Linked DNA regions of Homo sapiens: all the other regions are linked to region 3. Evidence: fine-mapped expression QTL. Tissue or cell type: whole blood. Region 3 holds a variant in brackets; each other region holds the start of a gene. All regions are shown on one strand. Distances are between the middles of the regions.

The links. PIP is the estimated chance that this variant, and not a neighbour inherited with it, causes the effect.
Region 1: CCDC175 starts here. The variant in region 3 is fine-mapped to the expression of CCDC175 in whole blood (INTERVAL, PIP 0.94).
Region 2: it holds the start of RTN1, and the variant in region 3 is fine-mapped to the expression of RTN1 in whole blood (INTERVAL, PIP above 0.99).

What each region holds. Positions count from the first base shown.
Region 1 is chr14:59,573,258-59,581,414 of GRCh38, forward strand. It overlaps CCDC175 (coiled-coil domain containing 175), which reads right to left and starts at 3,555. Exons shown (of 20, transcript NM_001164399.2): 1 at 3,362-3,555; 2 at 1,686-1,771. The coding sequence starts at 3,518.
Region 2 is chr14:59,867,517-59,875,673 of GRCh38, forward strand. RTN1 (reticulon 1) reads right to left here and starts at 3,260. Exons shown (of 9, transcript NM_021136.3): 1 at 2,874-3,260. The coding sequence starts at 3,114. RefSeq lists a silencer at 3,169-3,268.
Region 3 is chr14:59,539,917-59,548,073 of GRCh38, forward strand. It overlaps CCDC175 (coiled-coil domain containing 175), which reads right to left. Exons shown (of 20, transcript NM_001164399.2): 9 at 5,247-5,383; 10 at 3,428-3,538; 11 at 759-830. Among named protein-coding and RNA genes, the nearest start is that of CCDC175, 33 kb to the right of the region's middle. The variant G/A (reference allele first, on the strand shown) is at 4,290.

The DNA.
Region 1 (8,157 bases), 33 kb after region 3:
CTACTTTAAGAAAGGAAACACTGCTAAGAAATCAGTTGGTGGGAAAAAATAGATAAATCATCTTTTAAATAAACTGTCATAATAGCTATAGCTATTTTATGACCTGAGAAACTGCCATTATATTTTATGAATTATAAAAAGCAGACTATATAATTACATATATAGCATCATCACTTTTCTGTAAAAAATGAAATTCAATGCAGTTATCACCTATACCCTGAAAATAGAAAGTATATTCATCAGCATTAATAGTGATTATTTTAATGTGGTCCTTTTGCTTATCTATTTTTTCTTAATTTTTCAAAGTCAACATGTATTACTTTTAAAAATAAAAGGATTGATCTGGTTTTTTGTTTTTTTGTTTTTTTTTTTTTTGAGATGGAATCTCACTCTGTTGACCAGTCTGGAGTGCAGTGGGTCAATCTCAGCTCACTGTAACCTCTGCCTCCTGGTTTCAAGCAATTCTCCTACAAGCCTCCCAAGTAGCTAGGATTACAGGCTCCCGCCACCTTGCCAGGCTAATTTTTGTATTTTTAGTAGAGATGGAGTTTCACCATGTCTCGGCCAGGCTAGTCTCAGACTCCTGACCTCAAGTGATCCACCCATCCTGGCCTCCCGGAGTGCTGGGATTACAGGCGTGAGCCACCATACCCAGCCTGATCTCTGTTGTTTAAGAGATTTCACGGCTCAGATATTAAATGAATACAGACTAGATACTTTAACCACAATAAATATTTTGGCCTCTTAAAATCCTAGCGAAAGACATAACTGAAAGAAAGAACCAAGCAGGGAAAAATGTTTTCACAGCACCACAGAGCTGCACAACACACATGATCCCTCAGTGTTTACGTGTACCTACTCAAGTAGGATTGTAAAGTATGATTATGTAGTATAGATATATATATGTGTATAATTATATAAAATATAAAGTAGTAAGAGTTTTATCAGCAGTCTGTGGATTCAAACTCATTTACAGCCATATTTCAACATTTTTAGCAATTTGATATGTAGTAAATTCTTATCCAATATTTTTAAATAAAATGGAGAGCCTTCACTACTCTGACTGTGCCAAGGAAGCATTGTCAATGTGATCCTTGGCCGAACAGAGATGTCTGTGACACCTCAGAAGGAAATTCTTTAAATATTTCTTCAACATGTCTTTGATAGGGGCCAGTTAAGTGTAATTGAAAGAGTTTCTCTTTGTTTTCACTAACAGTACCGTCTACTTCAGTGGAACATATGTCAAATAATCTTTGACCAGTTATGCAAGGAATTGCTTACAGAGAACTGAGTTAATTAGCACCATGCTTGCAATTTATTCCAGAGATTGTGTGTTTGTTTGTTTTAAGCAATGCTTATATATTGGTGTCCCAAGCATTTGCCCATGTGGTCCACCTCTTAACTGAACCGTATTATCACCCACATTGCTTTCTCTAAATGAGCTTGCCCTCATCCACAGCCATAAGCCCATAATTTAGTTTTCTTCATGGAAAATCAAGTAACAATCCACAGTTGATCAATAATTGTGCAAATCCTTACAAAATTGAGAGAAAAATATTTTTAAGTTCAGGGTAACTATATTCCCTAGTCATCTACTTAATACTTTGAACAGAATTGGTGCGAAATGAAAGTTTGAAGAAATATGTGGAAGATTGAAGAAATGGTTCTTATAGATAATACAATACCAATTTCTTAACAGCTACAGCAATGTCCTTAAGAAAGATCTTAGCTTCTTCATTACATTTAAAATAGTCACTTTGCAGTGATTGTTCTGAAAAAAAAATTAGAAAATAAAGATCTCTTATTTATCTATCCAAATCCTACTTAACCTTTTATGATCTAGCTCAAATGCTTACTCGGCTGGAAGTTACATCTTCAGTCTCTGAATTTTTATTGTACATTACACTAATCTCTTTTGTACTTATTTCCTATTCCATAATGTTATAATTTAGGTATATATTTTATGCTCCTTGAGGACAAATGTGCTGGAGATTTACATATTAATATTTTATAACTCAGGGCAAGAGGGTGTAATGATTTTTTTTTCCTATGAAATATGTTCTGAGTGTCTAGACATTAACAGAAAAATGTATTTGTACATAAGTACTAGGGTTGCATTGGCATGCCGATCTAGAGATCAAGTATGAAAAGAGTTCAAGGTTCTAGGTCTGTCATTGACAGTGACCTCAGATACATGTGAATAATTTAGGTCTTAATAACTTTAGGTCTCCTCAGTGGGTAACATTCCTTTTTTTTTTTTTTTTTTTTTTGAGACGGAGTCTCGCTCTGTCGCGCAGGCTGGAGTGCAGTGGCACCATCTCGGCTCACCACAACCTCTGCCTTCTGAGTTCAACGGATTCTCCTGCCTCAGCCTCCCGAGTAGCTGGGATTACAGACGTGCGTCACCACGCCCGGCTAATTTTTGTATTTTTAGTAGAGACGGGGTTTCACCATGTTGGCCAGGCTGGTCTCAAACTCCTGACCTCAGGTATCCACCCGCCTCGGCCTCCCAAAGTGCTGGGATTACAGACATGAGCCACCGCGCCCGGCCAACATTCTTCATGATAACATTTACCCAAGCATATTTGCTAAGAATTGTGAAATTAACCTAGCGCATTTAAGAAGGAAAATAAAAACTATCCCAAATTAATAGTAACATTGTAACATAAATCAATACGATTATCTTGAAGAAATGGGATGATTCTAGTGAAGCACTGAAATGTTTTGTTGTTTGGCCTAAACGGTTTTTGCACCGAACAAGAAACACCCTTTCTTGGATTGTCTTACCTTAAGCTTAAGTGACTTGATTACAGGTTCAGCTTTCTAACTGAAAAATACTTTAACCTGGCCCTATCCAAGGTCATTTTCTATTAGAATCTCCTAAACAACCCTTTACATCTAATTTTTCTTGCTCAACACAACAGAAGCCTCTTAAACACTCCCTTTCCTATTTGCTTGTTAAATTCTCCAGTTTGCCACGGCAAAATGTCGGAGGAAGTTAACTTGTAAAGGAACGGCAAGAAGAGAACTGAAATCGAAGGCATAATCTAAATGCAGGTGTGTAATCAGGTCGCAGGCATAGGGCAGTGGCTTGGGAGTCCCGGATTTGTCACCTCAGTAATTTAACTACTACTGAGGGTTGAGCGAAGTCACCTCAGCTGCGCTAGGGCAGGAGATCTGGGCACTTGGTCCCACCCGCCACCTCTCTCTCCCCAGCCTCCAAGGAGCGGGGAGAAGGCTCTGCCCTGCCCAGTGATGCCCTGGTTCCGGGAGGAGAGTCCCCGCTCAGGGTTCCCGCTGAGTGCCTCCTAAGCGCCACCTCTGAGGAGACGTCCCTTCCAGCGCCCGAGGGGCGTCTTACCCACAACAAACAGCTGCTCCAGCGCCTCGACCGCGACCGAGGAGCCCAGGGTGGAGGGTAAGGTGCATAACTCCAGGGAGGGGCCAGTGGAGACGGCAGCCGCCTGCACCAGCTTCTCGCCAGCGCCCAGCCCTGGGGTCCAGGGGCTCAGGGCCATTTTGCCGCTCTACTTGAGCGCCTCCTAAGCCAGAGCCAAGGATTGCCGGTTGCCACGGGCAACGAGGACACCGAGGTCGTGGGGCGCCCCCTCGTGGCCCGCACCTCTAGTAGGTACCCTCCTGGTTCTCTAATTTTATCCACGATAATTAAGCAGTCTGGGAAGAATGACTCTCTCTTTAGCTAATTTTTCCCCTTTCAATTTCCATTGCGTTAGTTCAGGCCTGTATCTTTTTTGTGGGCCACTGGAATCATAATAATGATCACTTTTGAGCGCATCTTTGTGCCGGATACTGCAGGAGAACCTTTATATACAGTAGCTCACTTAATCTTCACAAGGACTTTGTGAGCAGGCTCTTTTAGTACCTCCACTTTTACAGACACGTAAACTGAGGCGCGGGCGACTAAATGAACGGCTCAAGACCACAAGAGGATAATATTGGATTTAAAGTGACGTCTGGGCCGGGCGAGGTGGCTCACGCCTGTAGTCCCAGCACTTTGGGAGGCCAAGGCGGGAGGATCACCTGTGGTCATGAATTCAAAACCAGCCTAATCAACATGGTGAAACCCCATCTCTACTAAAAATACAAAAATTAGCCGGGCGTGGTGGCGCGTGCCTGTAGTCCCAGCTACTCAGGAGGCTGAGGCAGGACAATCGCTTGAACCCGGGAGGAAAAGGTTATAGTGAACCGAGATCTCGCCATTGCACTCCAGCCTGGGCGACAAGAGCTAAACTCCATCTCAAAATAATAAAATAAAATAATAAAGTGAAGTCTGTATGACTCTTTCTACTATGCTACAAAACCTTCTTTTGTACTAATTTAGAACTTTCCTTGTATCTAGTACATCACTGAGCACATTTTGCCTTGAATCATAGTGATTTTTCTCTGTCTTCCCATCGAACTGTGAGCTCTGTGATGACGGGGACAGGAGGATATTATTCATTTTTCTCTGCATCTCCAAAATTCAGCTTAGCATGAGGCTTAGGTTGAGTCTGTCAGTTCCTTTTCCTCTGGTGGGTTAGAGAGAAGCAAAGGTGATTCAACCCTCCTCTTCTTTTCTCTACAGATGGCAAAATTGAAATTAGAATGATAGTAACAATGACAATAGCTATCAATTGTTAAATGCTTATTTTGTTCCAGGCACTGTTTTAAATACTTTGCAGTACCCCATTTAACCCTCACAAATAATCTTTTGAGCTAGGTATTATTGCCTGCTTTGCAAGTGAGGGCACTGAGCTACATCCTAAACCACTGTGCAACACTGCCTTGGAGGGGACACAGCATACCAGTAGCAGAACTAGTTCTAGAATCCAGGCCTCCTTCATCCAGGGAGTGCCATATTTTGGTGTTGGAAACCATCCTGGACAACATCCTCCTTTTTTGCTGGATTTGGTCTATTGGTATTCAAATCTGTTCCTGCCCTTCTGGGCCCTCCTCTGTGTGGCAGGAGTAAGAAGACTGGATATGAAATTTCCTGGATGTCCTTGCCACCTGTTTTCTTGGTAAGTTCCACTAATGGGAAACACTTGAGGGAGATTAGAAGGCCGAGAAATCATGCATTTCTGCCTCCAGAAGTGGTAGTTTCAGGCTACAGTTGACTGTAGGTCCCAGCAGTTTTGGTGGCTCTAGAAGTGGCAGGAGTAGGAGCCAAGTGACTCCAGCAGTCTCCAGCTGCTCAGCACTATATGTGAGCTTGTGCGTACAGTACAGGTGTTATGGCAGCTCTGATGTCTGGGGTCTTCTTTATCTTCTTACCCTTTGGCTTCTATACCCCTTGTAACAAATTCCTTGTGATATACTTCTCTCTTCTGGAAATATCTAGACTGGACTACTTCAAGGCAACCCTTAAGCTGTCACCAGAAGACTCTTCTTACATATCGCATCATTTGGATCACATTGCTCTCCATTATCTATGAATAAAGGCTAATCTTAAGGGGGCATTTTGTGTCCTCCCCACTTACTGGATTTGTTACAGATTTTCTTACATTTCTCTATTTCCCTTCATGTCTCTAATACTTTCTTTTTCCCTGAACTTTGTGAGAAAGTTACATGTACATACACATACATATGTATAAAGTGGGAAAAGCAAGTTGAAAAAGAAACGTACAGTATTCAATTAATATTTAATTTTTATAAATTAAATATTTTGTGAGAGATGATCAGCTTCTAACTTGTCTCATGGTTCCTTTTATATGGGATGCCCTGTACAAAATTCAACCACAATTTTTCAAAGGAAACTTTATAAATTCTGAAATAGAAATCTAGGCAAACAACATGAATCATCACTTAATAAAAGAAAAAAAATTCCGAGAAACATACGGAAAGAACATTTACCCTCATTAGCATTCAAAGAAAAATAATACTCTCATTTTCTCATAATATTAAGATTAAAAAGAATAATACTTCAAAGTATTGACACTGGGAATATGCATACTATCTGAAGGACAATTTGGAAATTTGTGTAAGGAGCCTTGACATACAGTAATTCTTCTAAGAATTGTTCTTAAAGAAATAATCACAGGTTTGTCCATGGGCATAGGTATGAACTTGTTTATTGCAGTCCTGTTTTAAATACTGAAAAATAGCCCAAATGATCTACAGTAGGACACTGTTGTTAAGTAATTTATGGGACATCCATGCAGTGGAACAATCTAGAAGGCAATCCGCCATGTGGTTAAGAGCTTGGGTTCTGGTGGATTTAAATGCGTTCCACTACTGATTGGATGGAGTATCTCCTGAGACAGCCTCCCAGCTCATGCTGCCAGTGTCTCAGCTCTAAAGGGGTGGTGACGGTGATAGGAGTTCTCAGTTCATAGGATTGTTCAAAGGATTAAATTAAGTGAGCACATGGTAGATACTTAAAAAACACTAATGATAAAGTAATAATAGGGTACCTATTAAGAATAATGGGTAGAAATTTACATGTACATACACATACATATGTATAAAGTGGGAAAAGCAAGTTGAAAAAGAAATGTACAGTATTCAATTAATATTTAATTTTTACAAGTCCATATATCTATAGAGATGTATATAGGTATATCTCTATAAACATATGCATAGAAAATGGTCTGAGAAGAATTGTTCACTAAAATGTTACCTGTAGTTATTCCTGGTTAGTGAAATTATAGATGTAATAGGTAAAATAATGCCTCCTCAAAATGTCCACATCCTAATCCCTGAGACTTGTGAATATATTAGGTTACCTGGTAAGGGGTAATTAAGGTTGTAGAGGAAACTAAGATTGTTAATCAGTAAACTCCGAGATGAGGAAAGTAGCCTAGATTGTCCAGGTGGGCCCAATGTAATCACAAGAGTTGTTTTTTTTGTTGTTGTTTTTTGTTTTTTTTTTGAGACGGAGTCTCACTCTTGTCACCCAGGCTGGAGTGCAGTGGCGCCATCTTGGCTCCCTGCAACCTCCGCCTCCTGGGTTCAAGTGATTCTCCTGCCTCAGCCTCCTGAGTAGCTAGGATTACAGGCACCCGCCACCACGCCCAGCTAATTTTTGTATTTTTAGTAGAGATGGGGTTTCCCTGTGTTTCCCAGGCTGGTCTTGAACTCCTGACCTTAGGTGATCCGTCTGCCTTGGCCTCCCAAAGTGCTGGGATTACAGGCATGAACCACTGCGCCTGGCCACAAGAGTTCTTATAACTGAAAGGTGGAGGCAGGAGAGTCAATATCAAAGTCAGAGAAAGATTTGAAGATGCTAAGCCGCTAGTTTTGAAGATGGAGGAAGGGGACCATGAACCAAGGAATGCAGGTGGTCTCTGGAAACTAGAAAAGGCAAGGAAACAGATTCTCCCTTAGACCCTCCAGAGAGAATTCAGCCTTGCTGACATCTTGATTTTCACTAAGAAAGACTCATTTTGAACTTCTGACCTCCAAAATGGTAAAACAATACATTTAAGTATTGTTTTACTTTTAAATTTGCTTTACTTAAAACAATAAATTTGTATTGTTTTAAGCCACTAAGTTTGTGGTAATTTGTAACAGCAGCCATAGGAAACTTTAGAAATAATGGACACATAAAAAAAGATTTCTCAGCCTTCACTACTTACAGCTGGTGTGCACTTGGCCAAAATGCATGTCCTTTTCTCATGTATTTTTACTTTGGTAACACAAACAGATACATTTATCTTTCAGGCAGTATTTTAAAGAGGACTTTTGCTGAACAGCCAGTATGACATTGAGAATCCTCCAGTCTGGTGCTGACATAGATTTTTAGTTATCATAAAGCAAGTTTGTTTCTGTTTAGCCCTTGCTGCTGTTAGAGCCAGGGAAAGAACCCAACTGATCCTTGGAGTTTGGCCCCTAACTTGCACAGGAATGAATACGATCATATGTTCTGGCAGGTTTGCAGTCTCTGTATGTGAGGTCTATATCGTATTTGATGATAACATTGCTTTTACAGCATCTTTGCATAAATCTAGTATCTCTAGGCAAAGTCTAAACTCCTTGGGCCTAGACCCTGAGTTAGATCAAGGCAAGGTTCCATTCTTGGTAGTTGGGTCAAACATCTCACATATAGAAAGTGGTTGCCTGTTTCACTGCTTTGTGCATGTTATCATTTCATCATCAAGCTTGTTGCCTCATGGTCACAGATGGCTGCTGCAGCCCCAGACATCCCACCCTTGTGCA
Region 2 (8,157 bases), 330 kb after region 3:
AAAATAGAGGATTGATGGAGTTTTATGGTGCAGTTTTAATAATGTTTAAACTTATATTCATTCCAGGACACTGCTGAGACATATTTTTGGAAATGTTCCTGGGATAATTTTAATTACCATCAATGTATAAAAATAAATAACAGAATATCTGTCCAGATGGCATGATTGGTGATGTTTTTCAGAAAAACAGTTATTAAAACATCAATATCTGTCTTATATTTCCATCTAAAAAAGAAACAAAATCTGTTTACAGTGCATCACACTCAAAGTCTAAGTTACTTCTTAGTTTGAGTTGAGTCCCAAAAAAGCACCACTCTTTTAAAAAAATAAAGCACTCTTCTGCCATGTGGGGACACAGTGAAAAGACAGCTGTGTGTGGACCAGGAAGCAGACCCTGACCAGACACCAAATCTACCTTGATCTTAGATTTCTCAGCTTCTAGCACTGTGAGAAAATAAATTTCTGTTTATAAGCCAAAAAAAAGTAAATTAAGAAATACAGTGTAAAGTAGTGTGCTTAATAGGCATCTCTGATACAATTGAGGGCTCACCTGCTAACTTTGCTTATAGCAATAGAACTGCCAAAATAACAGACCAGGAAGCTGGACAAGATTTGTTTGGAATTTTAAGATCTAGTTATTTATTTATACAGCATTTCTGGCGTTTGAGTCTCTTATAGCAGCACATCCGGTCTACTTAATAAGAAACACAGAGATTTAAGACATTAACCAATCAACAACTATATCAGAAATTCCTTCTAGCCACAATCATAAACTAAAAAATTTCTATATAAATATGCAAAATATGTGCTCCTTCCATCTTTCTTCATTCTTCTCCCATCCAAACGTAGTATCATGTTTGATTTTATTACTATATTTGTTGCCTAGGATAGAAAACCCCAAACACATTCAATAAAGCAAGGTATTTCTATAATAATAATACTAAAAATGCAAAATGCATTGTTATTTACTACAGCCACCTTTCTGTAACAATGCACTGTACATTTTGAAATTGCTAAAAGAGTAAATTTTAAACGCTTTTACCACAAAAAAAAAGTACATGAGATGATGGATTTGTTAGCTAATCATTTGACAATGCAGACATATGTCAAAACATCACACTGTACCCCACAAATATATATTCTAAGCATTTCCTATATAATAACTTTTGTGGATATGTTACTGAGCATGGGGCACTTAGCTTCCTTTTTCTAGTTCACATAATCTTAGTGGCACTAATAGGAGGTGGGTAATGTTTCATAAAGAAACAATTTACTTTGATTACAGTGGATAAAGATTCTGAACTATGAGCAGTCTATCCTCAACAAAGAATGGTAAAGACAAAAACTACCTTCCTTTGTCTATTATCATTTGCCATCTTCTTTTGCAATTATAAAGAGTTTTGTTTTCACTTGGATGCAGAAGTTGAAAGAGAGACTGAGCAGCCATTCTTAGATTTAAATCCTCCCCCACTCCTAGGGATATAATAATTAATATATAACCTTTGGCGTTTGGCGTTGGGGCTTTTGAGTACTTTTCTTTCTTTCTTTTTCTTTTTTCTTATATAGGGTCTCCACTTTTTCTCTTCCTTTCAGGATATTGACAATTTTTATTCAACGCATTCTCCAAACCTCTTTTCCCCAGCTCAGATCTTCTGTACCAGGGCAGTTAATTACGATTACCTTAGACATTCCACATAACCCTTAAGAGAAGCTTACGAAAAGGGGTTTCTTTAAATCAACCACCAAGAGCACACACACCAGTCCCACTCCCCTTCCCCTCCTCTGGGAGCACCCCCCACCCCAGGCCTTCTAGCTCTACATTGCCAAAACTACACAACTCCCACTCCACCATAGCAAAGCTTTCTCAGGAAAGAGCACCACACAGCATCCCCTTTCCTCTCCCTGGAAACAGCGTTAACCAGGCCGGCAGCCTCAAAGCGCGCTTCCTGGATCCTTTGACCAGGATGCGCCAGGGGCCTGGGCTCCCGCTGGACACTGGCGCGCTCAGACTTTGAATAGGGCGTCAGGCGAAGAATGGCCAAACCCAGGGCAATTTCCGGGGTGGGGGGGGGGGGGCGCTTAGACTGCTGGTAAACTGTACCACGTCCACTCACCACCACCCAAGCCCTCCAACCCACAGCCAGGCCCGCCGCACTTAGGACTTGAAGTTTCAATGCTCCCTGCAAGGTGGGGCCATCCGGGCAGCGGCGAAATACAGGTTTTGGGCGGGGGCAGCCACAGCACCCAACCCTCTTGCAAAGCTGTGCCTCCCGAATTAGGGACAAACTCCCTGGGATTTGTTTTCTGCGGGAGAAAAGGCGGAGGGATGTGGGGGGAGTAAGGTGTGGTGGCGATTCGTGGAGGGCAAGGGTAAGGGGCAGTTACAGCCACATCTCTGCCCTGGACAGAGCCGGGTCCAGGGGCCGCGGGCCTGCCCGCCGCTCGGTTGTCAGCATCTCCTGTAGCCGGCGCGCACACTGCGCGCAAACACGCCCCCCAAAATCCCCACAACCTGTCAAACGGGCCCTACAGCTCGGAGCCTCCTGGCAGGAGGGAGAAACTTGTACCCAGACTCGCCAGCAGCCAGAATGCTGCTGTTTGCCTATGAGAACAATTTTTAAAGCGGAAATAATCATGATAATGAAATAAAAGGATCAAAAGCATCTTGACTTTTTCTGAGCCTTTGGGAAAAATAAAATTGTTGTTTTCTACCAGCCCGCGAATATTCCCAGTCGCCCGTGGCGACGCGGGGGTGGGGTCGGCGCTCAAGGCAGAAAGCGCGAGGCAGGTGCCCAGGAGAGCCGCGCAGAAGGGGACTGACTGGGGGGCCCTGGTCCCCGACGCCATTTGAGGGGCAGCGGCGCCCGCCTTACCTGTGGATGCAGTTTCCATGGCAACGGGCGACTGCCGGGCGGGGCCCGAGCCGGCTTCCCGCGACGCCGCTTCCCGGGCCCTGGCGCCCAACCCCGGGCTGGGCTCCCCAGCCTGCGGCGCCGGCGTGGCCCCTTTCGGCGTCACCGCTTCGTTCTCCCCCTCCCCCCGGTGCCTGAGCCACTGGGACCCGGGGCCGGCCAGCGGCAGCAGCTCGTCCTGCGGATCCCCCGGCGCGGCCATGGCTGGCGGTCCCCCGGCGCGGCGACGGCGGCTTGGCTGGGCAGAGGCTCGGTGGCTGCGCGGGCGCTCCCTGCTGCTGTCCCCGGAGGGACTCGGCGCTCAGGGAAGCTGCGGTGTCTCAGCGTCGCCGCCGCCTCTGCTGCAACTCCGCCGAGCCGCTGCCTGCCGCTCTTCCCGCTTCAGCTCCTCCTTCTCCCCCCTCCTCTTCCTCCGGCCCCGCCGCGGCCGCTGCCTGCGCTCCTCCTCCTACTCCACTCGCTGCTGCCGCCGCTGCTTCGCTATTCCCAATCCTGTTATTACGCAGGTGAAAATGGCCTGCTTGGTCCGGGTCCTCCTGGGCACGTCAGCCCCCAACCTGCAAATGGCAGGCCCCGGTTAGGGGATGTGCCAAATCCACTCGAATCTTCCTCTCGTTTGGGGAGGAAAAAAAAGGAAGAACCAGCAAGTAGCAGCAGCCACCAGCAGCGTCGCCTTCCCAACTGAGAAAGTTAAGCCCCGACTGGTGTCCTGGGTCCCGAGGCAAAGAGGGAAAGCTAGAGAACTCAGGGCCACAGTTCTGAGAGTGACCAGTATGAGTTGTGGAGGGGACACAGGTCTGAACGGGGAAGGGGTGGAGATGGGTTCTGATGGCAGATGGAGACCAGGGAAGCTGCAACCCCGCGGTTAAATCCTGCGTTTCCAGAATGGGCCTGAAAATAGTGGAGTAAAGAAATGAGTTATCAGGACAGCCTCCAAAAAAAGCTTAACAGATCTCACCCTGACCAGCCCTGAGGGCAAACAGGGTGTCAATAGGCAAGGACAAAAGCTGTACATTTGCTTTCAGAAACACTGAGCCAAGGCCATCCTAATCATAAGCTGTCTGTGCAGTCCGTTGTATTTCAGAATTTGGACATTCCATGAAGCTTGCATCTTTTTCTTTACAGTTCACTGTGATAAAATGGAAGATAGTCAGCAAATAAACCCAAACTCAGAGGAGGAAAGTGACTTGCCTTATCATATGTTGTGCCCATACGAAGACCCATCTTTTCAAATGTCTTGTGTTTTATTGGTTCCCAAGTTGTTTATATAATAAAATAATGTGCCTTTAAAAACTAAGATTCACCACAACACACAGGGTGAAGGAATAGGTTTTTCTGCTGTTTCTTCTCTAGGAAAGGTGGGCGCAGACGGTACCGCACACACTGTGAGACTGTGGGACTCTTGGCCACCATGCGCATCTTGAGGATTTCATACCTGTCCATTGGTATATTCAAAGGCCAACTTCAGGACCATTCAGGTGCTCCTCAATAATGCTAAAATGAAAAAGCCCAGAGTCTGCCTAATCTTTTGTTCTGCTAGTGCACTAATGTTCAAAAGATGACAATAAATTAGAGAAAAATCATTCACTAAACAATAAATATGGCCTCCTGAAGCCAGATATCCCTGGAAATCTGATGGTCACCAAAATTTTACATTTTTGACATACTCAAAATTATGTCTCATGATGGAAATATTCACTATCTAGATTGTGGTTATAGCTTCACAGGTGCAAACATATGTCAAAACTTATTGTTTACTGTAAATATGAACAATTTAATGTGTTGTCAGTTATAACTCAATAAATCTATAAAAATAATCTCATCCAAAAACAACAAAATAATTGGTTATCATGAATCATAATGATTTTTAAACATCTTTCCATGGGAAAACAAGAGTGTATTTAAAAAACCGTTAAGTTGAAAAGCTTATTCCACTGCTGTATTTCCATGGAGCTTAATCCTGTCTTGTAATTAGAGGGCACTTGTAAGTTTTTTCAAATCTATTACTTAGTATTCCCTAAAGCATCAGAAATACTAGATGGGAATTTCTCATGGTTTTATTACTGATAACAAGACAAGAACATAGACAATTCTAATGATATAACCTTAAAGTGGTTATTGATGAATACTAATATTTGAGAATTGCTATGCAAAGGAGTTACATACAAAATAATATGAAGTATATTCTTTTGTTTCTCTGAGAAACATGAATGAAAGTCATCATTAAAAAACTGGGAGACCTAAGCAAGCCTCTGTGTTTCCTTATGATTAATAGATAGGAAGTTTGGGGATATGATTCTAATTATTTGTCAATTTCTTTCATACTAATCAATACTCTCATTGAGAATGTGTGAAGGAAATAGCCAGTTAAATCTATTTAGAGTGTAGTTGTTAAAGGAAATTGAACATTATTGACAGTTCCATTTTGATAAAGTATTCTATTTTACACTGCTGAAAAGAGATGAGCACAAGATTTCAGTGTTAGCAATTTTCATTACTAACTTTCCTTATTAGACTCCACCTTTGGATGTATAAAAATTATCTATTTGGGGGAAGAAATTTTCAGGTTTATGCTATGACTTGAAATGATTCATGTTTATTAATATTATTTATTTTGCACCGCTCTGAACTGACAAAGCTTGACTAATTTGAAGATTTATGGGCAAAACACACAGTCGGCAATGGGATTCTGGGGCTTACATAGTTGCTCTAAGTTACGAATTACTCTAAAATGCTTTTCAGACACAGAGAAAATAGGATTGTCACTTTTAAAAGGTTCTTAGCAAGAAGAGTTGAGACAAAAGAACTGTCACGTTTTGTTTTCAGCTTTTGTTTTTTGGAAAAGAAGTTTTGTTCATCATTTGAAAAGAAGAAATGAGGAGCATTTATTTAGCACTAGCTTCTTAACTTAGTCCAAACCATATATCATGGGGAAACACGGTGTGGGGACATGCAGGAAGAGCGCCACAAGTAACAAGCTTTAACCAAGATGAAATTCTTTCCAGCCTCAATATTAAAGTTACCTAACATCTCTACAACCCAGGTTCCTCAACTGTAACCTGGAGATTTTTTTTAAAATTTTTGTGGGTGGGTACATAGTAGGTGTATATATTTATGGGGTATATGAGATATTTTAATACAGGCATACAATGAATAATAATCATATCATGGTAAATAAGGTATCCATCACCTCAAGCTTTTATCCTTTCTTTGTGTTACAAACAATCCGATTATAATCTTTTTGTTGTTTTGAAATATAAAATAAATTATTGTTGACTGTAGGTGCCCCATTGTGCCAGTGAATACTAGATCTTATTCACTCGTATCTAACTATATTTTTATATCTACCATTAACTGTCCCACCTCCATGCCCCTCAGGCCCCTGCCAGCCTCCCAGCACTACACTTCTTGGCCTCTGGGAAACCGTTCTACTCTCTATCTCCATGAATTCAACTGTTTTAATTTTAATTTACCACACATAAGTGAGAACATAAGAAGTTTGTCTTTCTGTGCTTGGCTTATATCACTTAACAGATGTCCTCCAGTTCCATCCATGTTGTGCAAATGACAGGATCTCATTCTTTTTTATGACTGAATAATAGTCCATTGTGTATATGTACCACATTTTCTTTATCCATTTGTCTCTTGATGAACACATGGGTTGCTTCCAAATTTTGGCTAGTGTGAATAATATAGTGCTGTGATAAACGTTGGAGTGCAGATATCTCTTCAATATACTTTTGCTTTCTTTTGGGTATATACCCAACAAACAAACAAAAACAAGAAAACATTGAAACACTGGGGAAACTCTCCAGGATATTGGTTTGGGCAAGCATTTCTAGAGTAATGCCCCATAAGCACAGGCAACCAAAGCAAAAATGGACAAATGGGATCACATCAAGTTAAAAATCTTCTGCACAGCAAAAGAAACAACTAAGTGAAGAGACAACCCACAGAATAAGAGAATAAAATTGCAAATTATCCATCTGACAAGGGATTAATAACCATAATATATAAAAAACTGGGATTGCTGGATCATATGGTAGCTCTAGTTTTTTTAATTGGAGTCAGATGACATCTCATTGTAGTTCTGATTTGCATTTCTCTAATGATCAATGATATTGAGCACCTTTTCATATGTCTGTTTGCTATTTATTTGTATGTCTTCTTTTGAGTAATGTCTATTTAGATATTTTGCCCATTTTTAATTGGATCATTATATTTTTTCTTAATAGAGCTATTTGAGCTCGTTATATATTATGGTTATTAATCCCTTGTCAGATGGATAATTTGCAATTTTTTTCTCTTATTCTGTGGGTTGTCTCTTCACTTAGTTGTTTCTTTTGCTGTGCAGAAGATTTTTAACTTGATGTGATCCCATTTGTCCATTTTTGCTTTGGTTGCCTGTGCTTATGGGGTATTACTCTAGAAATCTTTGCCCAGACCAATATCCTTGAGACTTTCCCCAATGTTTCAATGTTTTCTTGTTTTTGTTTGTTTGTTTGTTTGAGACTGAGTCTTGGTCTGTCACCCAGGGTGGAGTGCAGTGGCGTGATCTTGGCTCACTGCAACCTCCACCTCCCAGGCTCAAGCAAATCTCTTACCTCTGCCTCTCGAGTAGCTGGGATTACAGGTGCCTGCCACCATGCCTGGCTAATTTTTGTGTTTTTAGTAGAGACGAGGTTTCACTATGTTGGCCAGGCTGGTCTTGAACTCCTGACCTCAAGTGATCCGCCCATCTCCGCCTCCCAAAGTGCTGGGATTACAGGTATGAGCCACCACATCTATTTGGCCCCCAGTGTTTTCTTTTAATGGTTTCCTAGCTTGAGGTCTTCAGTATAAGTCTTTCATCTATTTTGATTTGATTTTTGTATACAACAAGAGTTAGGGGTCTAGTTTCATTCTTTTGCATATGAATGTAATGTTGTCCCAGAACTATTTTTATTAAAGAGACTGTCCTTTCCCCAGTGTGTGTTCTTGGCACCTTTTTCAAAAATGAATTCACTGCAGATTAATGGATTTGTTTCTGGCTTCTCTACTCTGTTCCATTGGTCTATTTTTTTTTATGCCAGTACCATGCTGGCATGGTTTTGGTTACTATAGCTCTGTAGTACAATTCGAAGTAGGTAATGTGATTCTTCCAGTTTTGTTCTTTTTGCTCAGGGTGGCTTTTGCTATTCTGGGTCTTTTATGGTTCCACATAAATTTTAGGATTATTTTTCCTATTTCTGTGATGAGTATCATT
Region 3 (8,157 bases):
CAAAATTAACTGGGAGTGGTAGTGCGTGCCGGTAGTCCTAGCTAATCTGGTGGCTGAGGCATGAGAATCGCTTGAACCTGGGAGGCAGAGGTTGCAGTGTGCCGAGATGGCACCACTGCACTCCATCTTGGGCGACAGAGCAAGACTCTGTCTCAAAATAATAATAATAATACTAACAATAACAACAACGATAATAAAATACAGCTAAGTATAAGCAAGAGCTTTTTAGCTGCACTGATCTAAATACAGTATTTTACATGTATCATCTCATTTACATTCACAGCTACTTTATAAGGTAGATACTGTTATCCTTCCCCACTTTATAGGGATGGGAGCAAAGAGAAGTGATTAAATAACTTAGCCTTGGTCACAGAGCTAATAAGGACAGCAACCAAAGCAGGCCATCTGCAGAGCCAGTAGCCTTCACGCCACCTTCCTCTCTTACCATACCTGTCACCTCCCCTACTGGTTCACAAAGAGGCCTGGATGAGCAAAAGGCATTGCACAAATATTAGCAATTTTACTCTTTGGTGACCGCACTTGATTGAAATGGAAAACTTTGATTCTGTTCAATGCCAAAAAAAAAAAAATCAAATTAACCAATACATCTAGATCCGAGAGAATTTACACATAATTTAGGAAAATCATTCCCTTGGGTTCTAGTAACAACAAGTACTCTGCACTGTTCATTAAGATAACATATACTGCTGATAACACAAAACACAAATAAACTTTTTTTTTTTTTTTTTTTTTTTTACCATCTCTGACTTTCTCTTTCCAGGTTAGCACTCAGGATTTTGATTTGTTGCTGATACACTGTTTTTGTTGCTCTAAAAAGAAAAACATATTGGATTTTGCATTTATGGGAGCTGTTAGAATATACAATAGACTCTATACGCATAATTTGTATGCTCAGTAAGGCTATAGTCTAATTGGGAGACAAAATAAGCCTTGTGAAACAACTAAACATTTCAGTGGCAGACTGATAGACAATTGCAATTCTATGTTAGTGCAAACTGATTCTGCAACGGTTGTGGTGAATAGCCAAGGATAGAGAAGAGATTTCTGGGGAGGCAACTGATGAAGGGTTACTAGAGGTTAATGTTTCTCAGAGGGAGGAATGTGGATTGCCAGAATGGAGGTGCAATCTTACCAAGGAAAGGGTGTCATCATTTGCAAATACAGAGGGAAGGAACAGCAAGTCAGGCCTCTGCTATGACTTAAGTTAGGCTTGCTGTATACAGAGGACATGAAGGAAAGAATAACCCTATGACACAAGAGGAAGTAAGGTCAACACATTGTTGAGGAACTCCAGACCCTAGATTGAGCTCTGATTTGATATAATATACAATTCAGAAAGCCAATATAGTTTCTTGAACTGGGGAAAAGTACTAACTAAGGATAGAAGATTTTCTTGTGGTAGGATGGATGGAAATGTGAAGATTCCAACATAGGTAACAGAAGCCTTTATTTTTATCCCCAGCCCCGCCTTTTCCCTATTAAGTGATTCTTGGACAGAAATGAATTGAAAGCCACATAAGTAAAATGCTGCTTTATATCTTTTGAAAGAAATATTCACAAATGAAACTTAGAATAGGAAACACTCTTAAATAAACTAGAAACATACCTGTTCTCGTGTTTCTTTGTCTGTTTGAAACTGTAGTATGGACTCTCAATTTCCTACCAAAATAAATCTAATATCCTCCTCTGGATCTCTAAGGGTCTTCACAATTCACCCCAACCTTACTGATTTTGTTTATTTACATATTTAATGTAATCCATAAAGAACTTGAACCAGTTTAAAATAAAGCAACAATAATATAAAAAAATCCTAAATGGATAATAACATTGGGCCACAAATTTGGCTTTGAGATTCCTGGTGACCAGAGCAATTATGCACAGTAACTGACTATAAAATTTGCATTATTCATGAGGAACATAAAACCTGATTCAGTCCAAATCGATCTTCCTCCTCTTTTATTAGTAGTTCGTAGTTTTCCTTATGAAGCTGACATAATTGGAAACAGATGTTTGAATATATTATTTAACAATATGGGGACAACCATTCAAGCAAGGAACCTATGCTTCCTGTCACATTCCAGATATCTGTTGGTATGTGCTTGAATTTTCATCACCCCCTACCTTAGTTCTATAAGCTGGCTTCTTGATTGTCCTATATTTAAATCATGTGTCTCCCTTTGTGTGGTGATATCATTCTCCCATACAATGAGCACAGAAAAATCTGACTTGCTTTTAAAGGTCTAGTTCAAATTTTAAATCCTATATAACGAAGGACTCCTTGATTTCACTTTCATGCCCGACTGTTTTATATAATTCACTGTCATACATGGTTTATTTTTCACCATCATATGTGGTTCATTAATTATTTCATATGTGTTAGTCTTGCTTCTCTGCCCAACTGAACTATAAGCTCCTTATGCTCAGTCTTAATGTGTACAATGGTAGAATATTTACATAGGTCATTTTGACAATCATTATAAAAGTGAAAAATATGCATCCTCCTTTGATCCAGCACTTCAACTTTTAGGACTTTATTACAAAAAAAAAGTCATATGGGTAGAGAGAGATATGTTAACTTCAAATATTTGTAATATAGGCAACAGACAAAAGTAAATCTCCATCAATAGAGTGCTGGTTAAATACAGTATAGTATAATGTGTATTATACTATAATCTGCATAGAATACTATGCAGTTAGAGAAAAGATTGAGATATATTGAGAATATATATATATTCTCTTTGTTTTGAAATAGTTTTAAACTCAACAGGTAAGCATAAAAAAATAGTACAAAGAATTCCCATATATCCTTCACCAAATTCTCCAACTGTTAACATTTTACCTTATTTGTTTTATCATCCTCCTAGGTATAATTTTAAGTGGAACAAATTCAGTTATAGTAGAGTATAATCCAATTTTTGGATACATACATATAAATATATATTTGAAAGCATATATTGTAAACTGTTAACAGTGATTATGCCTGTGGAGAGATGGAGATTTTAGGGTAACTTTTATTCTCTAAGTTATGCATTTTATATATGAATTTTAAAATCATGTACAGGTATTATTTTTTAATCAGAAAAAAATTAAAATTAAAATGACTTAGAATGCAGAAATGAACATCAATGGGACTCAGTGTTGTGATAATGTTCAGGCACATTCTTGTCACTGCACCCCAACTGGTCCATTCCTGGGGCCCAGGAGCTCCCATAGAATTCAGAACCTGTTTATCCTTTCAATGAAAAAGTCCATGAGAGTGACTTCCAGACTGTGAAACAGAGAGAGCTAGTTCTAAACTTCCTTTTCTGTAGTATGTTAGAAATCAACATAGATTTACTGCTATCATTTATTAAAAAATAAATGCAGAGAAAGTAAAGATAAAAAATTTCAAAGGCAACAAACATACTGTTGAAGTTCCTGGAGTGTGATGAGTCCTTCTTCCATATTTTTGATGTCTACTCTCTTTTGTGACAGAAAGTATTCTTTCTGAGAAATAAATGTCAGCTGTTTCTGATTTCTATCATGAAAAACAGAGTTATTTGTTGAAGGCTGACATAAATATGCAAACACAAATAAGAATTTCAAAAATAGTTTTGAAAGTTCAGATCATGAGCTATTTGCTACATAAATTATTAAAAAATAGAAAGCAAGTCTTTTTGCTAGTGGTAGCTAGATCTAAATTTATGCAAAGGATTTTCTTTTTTTCAAATTTTTTCCCAGCTGATTTTTGTACTTTTGTAGAGATGGGGTTTCCCTGTGTTGCCCAGGCTGGTATCAAATGCCTGGTCTTATGCGATTGGTCCATGTTGGCCTCCCAAAGTGCTGGATTACAGGCGTGAGCCACTGTGCCCAGCATACACATAGGATTTTCATAAAATTTATGAAAATTCCCAAGCCACTGAAAGAATATTCACCACAATAGTAACCACAAAACAACAAGAACAGTTGTGTAGTGCTCCATGTCTCTGAGTGGGTGTGTCTCTCCTAACGTGCTTATCAATTCTGTCATGTTCTTCCATGGAAGGTGAAGGAGTCAGTCAGATTAATTTTGCATATTGGCTCTACCTTTTAATAAGAGTGTGATCTTAAGCTAACAATTAGCTTCACCTGTGAATAAGCTTCAGTTTCACCAGCTATAAAATGAGAATTACAATGCCTAGCTCAACGGATGAATGAATTTAATAAGATGTAAAGTGCTCCTCTCAGCGTGTGGATTGATAAGGGTTTTTTTTGTTTGTTTTGTTTTGAGACGGAGTCTGGCTCTTGTC[G/A]CCCAGGCCAGAGTGCAATGGTATGATCTTAGCTTACTGTAACCTCCGCCTCCTGGGTTGAAGCGATTCTCCTGCCTCAGCTTTCAGAGTAGCTGGGATTACAAGCACCCGCCACCATGCCCAGCTAATTTTTTGTATTTTTAGTAGAGATGGGGTTTCAAGTAGTTATTTTTTTGTCTCAAATTGCAGGAGAAAATAATGAGGCTCAGAGAAGTTTATAGTCTTGTTCAAATGCCCAGCTATTGATAGGAAGCTGCCTGTATCAGAAAGTATTTTATCTAAGTGACTCATCTTCCAAACTGCTGTGGACTGAATTGTGCCTCCCCCATCTCCAGAATTTATCTGTTGAAATGCTAACCCCCAACATGATGAAGAAATAGAGAGATTTGGGTAATTTTTACTCTCTAAGCTATACATTTCTATATTTGAATTTAAAAATCAAGTACAGGCATTGCTTTTTTCATGAGAAAAAATTAAAATTTAAAGTGCTTTAGAATGGCAGAAAGGAACATTGTGGGGCATTAGTGTCGTGATAATGCTCGAGCATATTATAAAGATGGGGCCTTTGGGGAAGTGATTAGGTTTGGATGAGGACATGAGGGTGGGACCTTATAAAAGAAAGACACCAGACAGACAGCATGTTCTCTCTCCACCCTGTGAAGACACAGAGAGAAAGCGGCTGGGTGGCTGTAAGCTAGAAAAGGGCCCTCACTCAGACTTCCAGCCTCCAGAACCGTGAGAAAATCAATTTCTGTTGCTTAAGCAGCCAGTCTATGGTATTTTGTTATGGCAGCCTGAGCTGCTGAGACAGAAACCAGTAATGATAGCAAATGTTTTCATTTTTGTCAATAGATTTTAAAACTAGGATAAGTTTAAGTGGAGAGCCACCACTTTGATAGCAAGAAAAGCACCCCATAATGATGGCATGTTGAATCACACGTGTGGGTAAAGACATACTCATCATGAATCTTTTGTTTTTGCAAAAAAGCTTTTTCTTCCTCACTTAAAACAATCTTATATTGTCTGGCAAGAGTTTTCATTTTCTCTCGTAGGTCTTTGTATTCCATACGAGCAGCATGCAGTGTTTCAACCAGCTAGAGAAAAACAAAGGAGGTGAATGAGAGGACTGGCTTCACTGCTCCTCTGAGGCCATCTGCATCAGGTGGCAACTCGGAGAGCACCTGGGATATTGCTTAGCCCACCGTGAATATGCCATAAATGCCGAGTGATTTAATTCTATAGCAAACATACAACTGTATATTTTGAGACCTCTACTATAAATTTTTTTAAGTATAGAAAAATAGTAAACCCTGCTGCAAAACCATAGAGTAATAATCCATATTGAAATGCAAAATGGGATGAATAAACTGTGACTGCTGAGCAACGTTAGTATGTCCTTTTCCAGAATATAAACTATAGAAAATGTAACATCCTCAGAAGCTCTTCCTCAAAACATTTTTGAGTTGATATTATGCTTGCTTCTTGTGAAATATTTCTATTTGAGGACAAAAAATAGTACCCACCAGTGTTCTACATGAGATCAGAATTTTTTGCTTATTAAATTGCTTCAAACGAGGTAAGAAAGTCAAGTTTAGCGGAAACAATGGGCTGAATAGTTCAAAACAACCTTCTATCTGAGGACAACTAAAATAGCTACATGAAAAAATATTTGTAGAAGTGTTGAAGAACTCACAAGATAACAAAGAATTATTCAAAAAACAAAAATAGAATTACTATTCAACCCAGCAATCCCATTACTGAGTATATACCCAAAGGAAAATAAATTAATCTACCGAAAGGATACCTGTGCTCATGTTTATTGCTGCACTATTCAGAATAGCAAAGACATGGAATCAACCCAGGTGCCCATGAACAGTGGATTGGATAAAGAAAATGTGGTAATAATACACCATGGAACATTATGCAGCCATAAAAAAGAATGAAATCATATCCTTTCTAGCAACATGGGTGCACCTAGAGGCCATTATCCTAAGTGGATTAATGCAGAAGCAGAAAATGAAATACTGCATATTCTCATTTATAAGTAGGAGCTAAATATTAGGTATACATGGACACAAAGATGGGAACAATAGACACTGGGACTCCAAAAAGATGGAGGGAAGAAGTGGGGAAGGGTTGGAAAACTACCTATTGGGTATTATGTTCACTACTTGGGTGACGGGATCATTAGCAGCCCAAATCTCAGCATTATGCAATATACCCTTGTAATAAACCTGCACATGTGCTTGAATCTAAAAAAATAAAAATAAAAAATAAAGGATAATAGGTGATTGCTAGGCCTAATTCTAGGAGAATGAAGAATCCAGAGCGGTAAGGCTAGCACTTAAAATTCCTCTGCCTTGAAAACACTTACTAACATAGAAGAAACCACTTGAAAACCAAGTTTTGGGTTTTTTTGCATGGCAAGTGGAACAAAAGCCAACATGTAATGCTCATCCAGGTGTTGAGCCTACATAAACCTCCCACTATTTTAGTCTGGGATTCCAAAGAGCTTCACCCTTTGGAAGGCTGAGGCAGGAGGATTGCTTGAGACTGGGAGGTCCGAGGCTGCAGTGAGCCATGATCATACCACTGCACTCTAGTCTGGGTGACAGAGTGAGATCCTGTCTCAAAAATAAATAAATAAATAAATAAAAAAGAATGCACAATTAAAAGATGAACAAATATCTAGAGCTTCTCAACATTTGAGTAAAATCAATACTGTAAAACAAAGCAATCAAAATCTACTATAGGCCAGGTGTGGTGGCTCGTGCCTGTAATCCTAGCACTTTGAGAGGCGGAGGTGGGAGGATCACTTGAGCCCAGGAGTTAGAGACCAGCCTGGGCAACACAGGGAGAATAGGACAAAAGAAACAGGTGAGGACATAATGGCTGAAAATTTTGCAGAACTTATGAAATATAGAAATTCTCAGATTTAAGAAGCCAAATAAATCCCAAGGAGGAAAAATGAAAAGAAAATTTGGACACATCATAGTGCAACTGAACAGCTAAGGCAAAGGGAACAAAGAAGATCTAAAACAAAAGACATATGCCATGTTAACGGATTGGAAGCCTCAATACTGTGAAAATGTGAAACCCTCTTCAAACTGATTTACAGATTTAACACAATCCCAATCAAAATCCAAACAGGTTTTTTGGAAGAACGTGACAAAATTGAAAAGGTCAAGAATAGCTGGAACACTTTTGAAGAACAAAGGTGAAGGATTTATACCACTGGCCATAAAAACTCATTTTAAAGGTACTAATTAAGACAATATTGTTTTAGTGTGAGGAGAGATGAATAGTTCAAATGAATAGAGTCAACAATCCACATATACATTTATGATCTATACTTGATTTATGACAATAGTATGACCACAATGTAGTGAAGGAAAGGATTGTATTTTCAGTAAATGGTGCTGGTTAATTGGACAACCTTATGGAAAAATATGAATCTTGACCACTATCTCAAAGCACATACACATAAATTCCAGATGGTTCGTAGTCTTAAATGTGAAAGGTCAAACAACAAAGCTTCTCAATGGTAACAGAAGAGAATAGTCTCATGACATAGGACATAGAGAACATTAACTAAAAAGATTGATAAACTGGACTTCATTAAAATTAATAAATTATATTCATCAAAAATATGTACATAAATATTGTATATTTATGGTTTATGTATTGTTCTGTAATGTGTAATATTTTATAATAACAAAGCTAAATCCAACAATGCCACTGCTGGGTATATATCCCAAGGAAATGAAATCAGTATGGCAAAGAGATATCTGTACTTCTATGTTCATTGCAGCACTATTCAGAGTAGCTAAGATGTAGAATCAACCTAGGTGTTCATCAGCCGATGAAT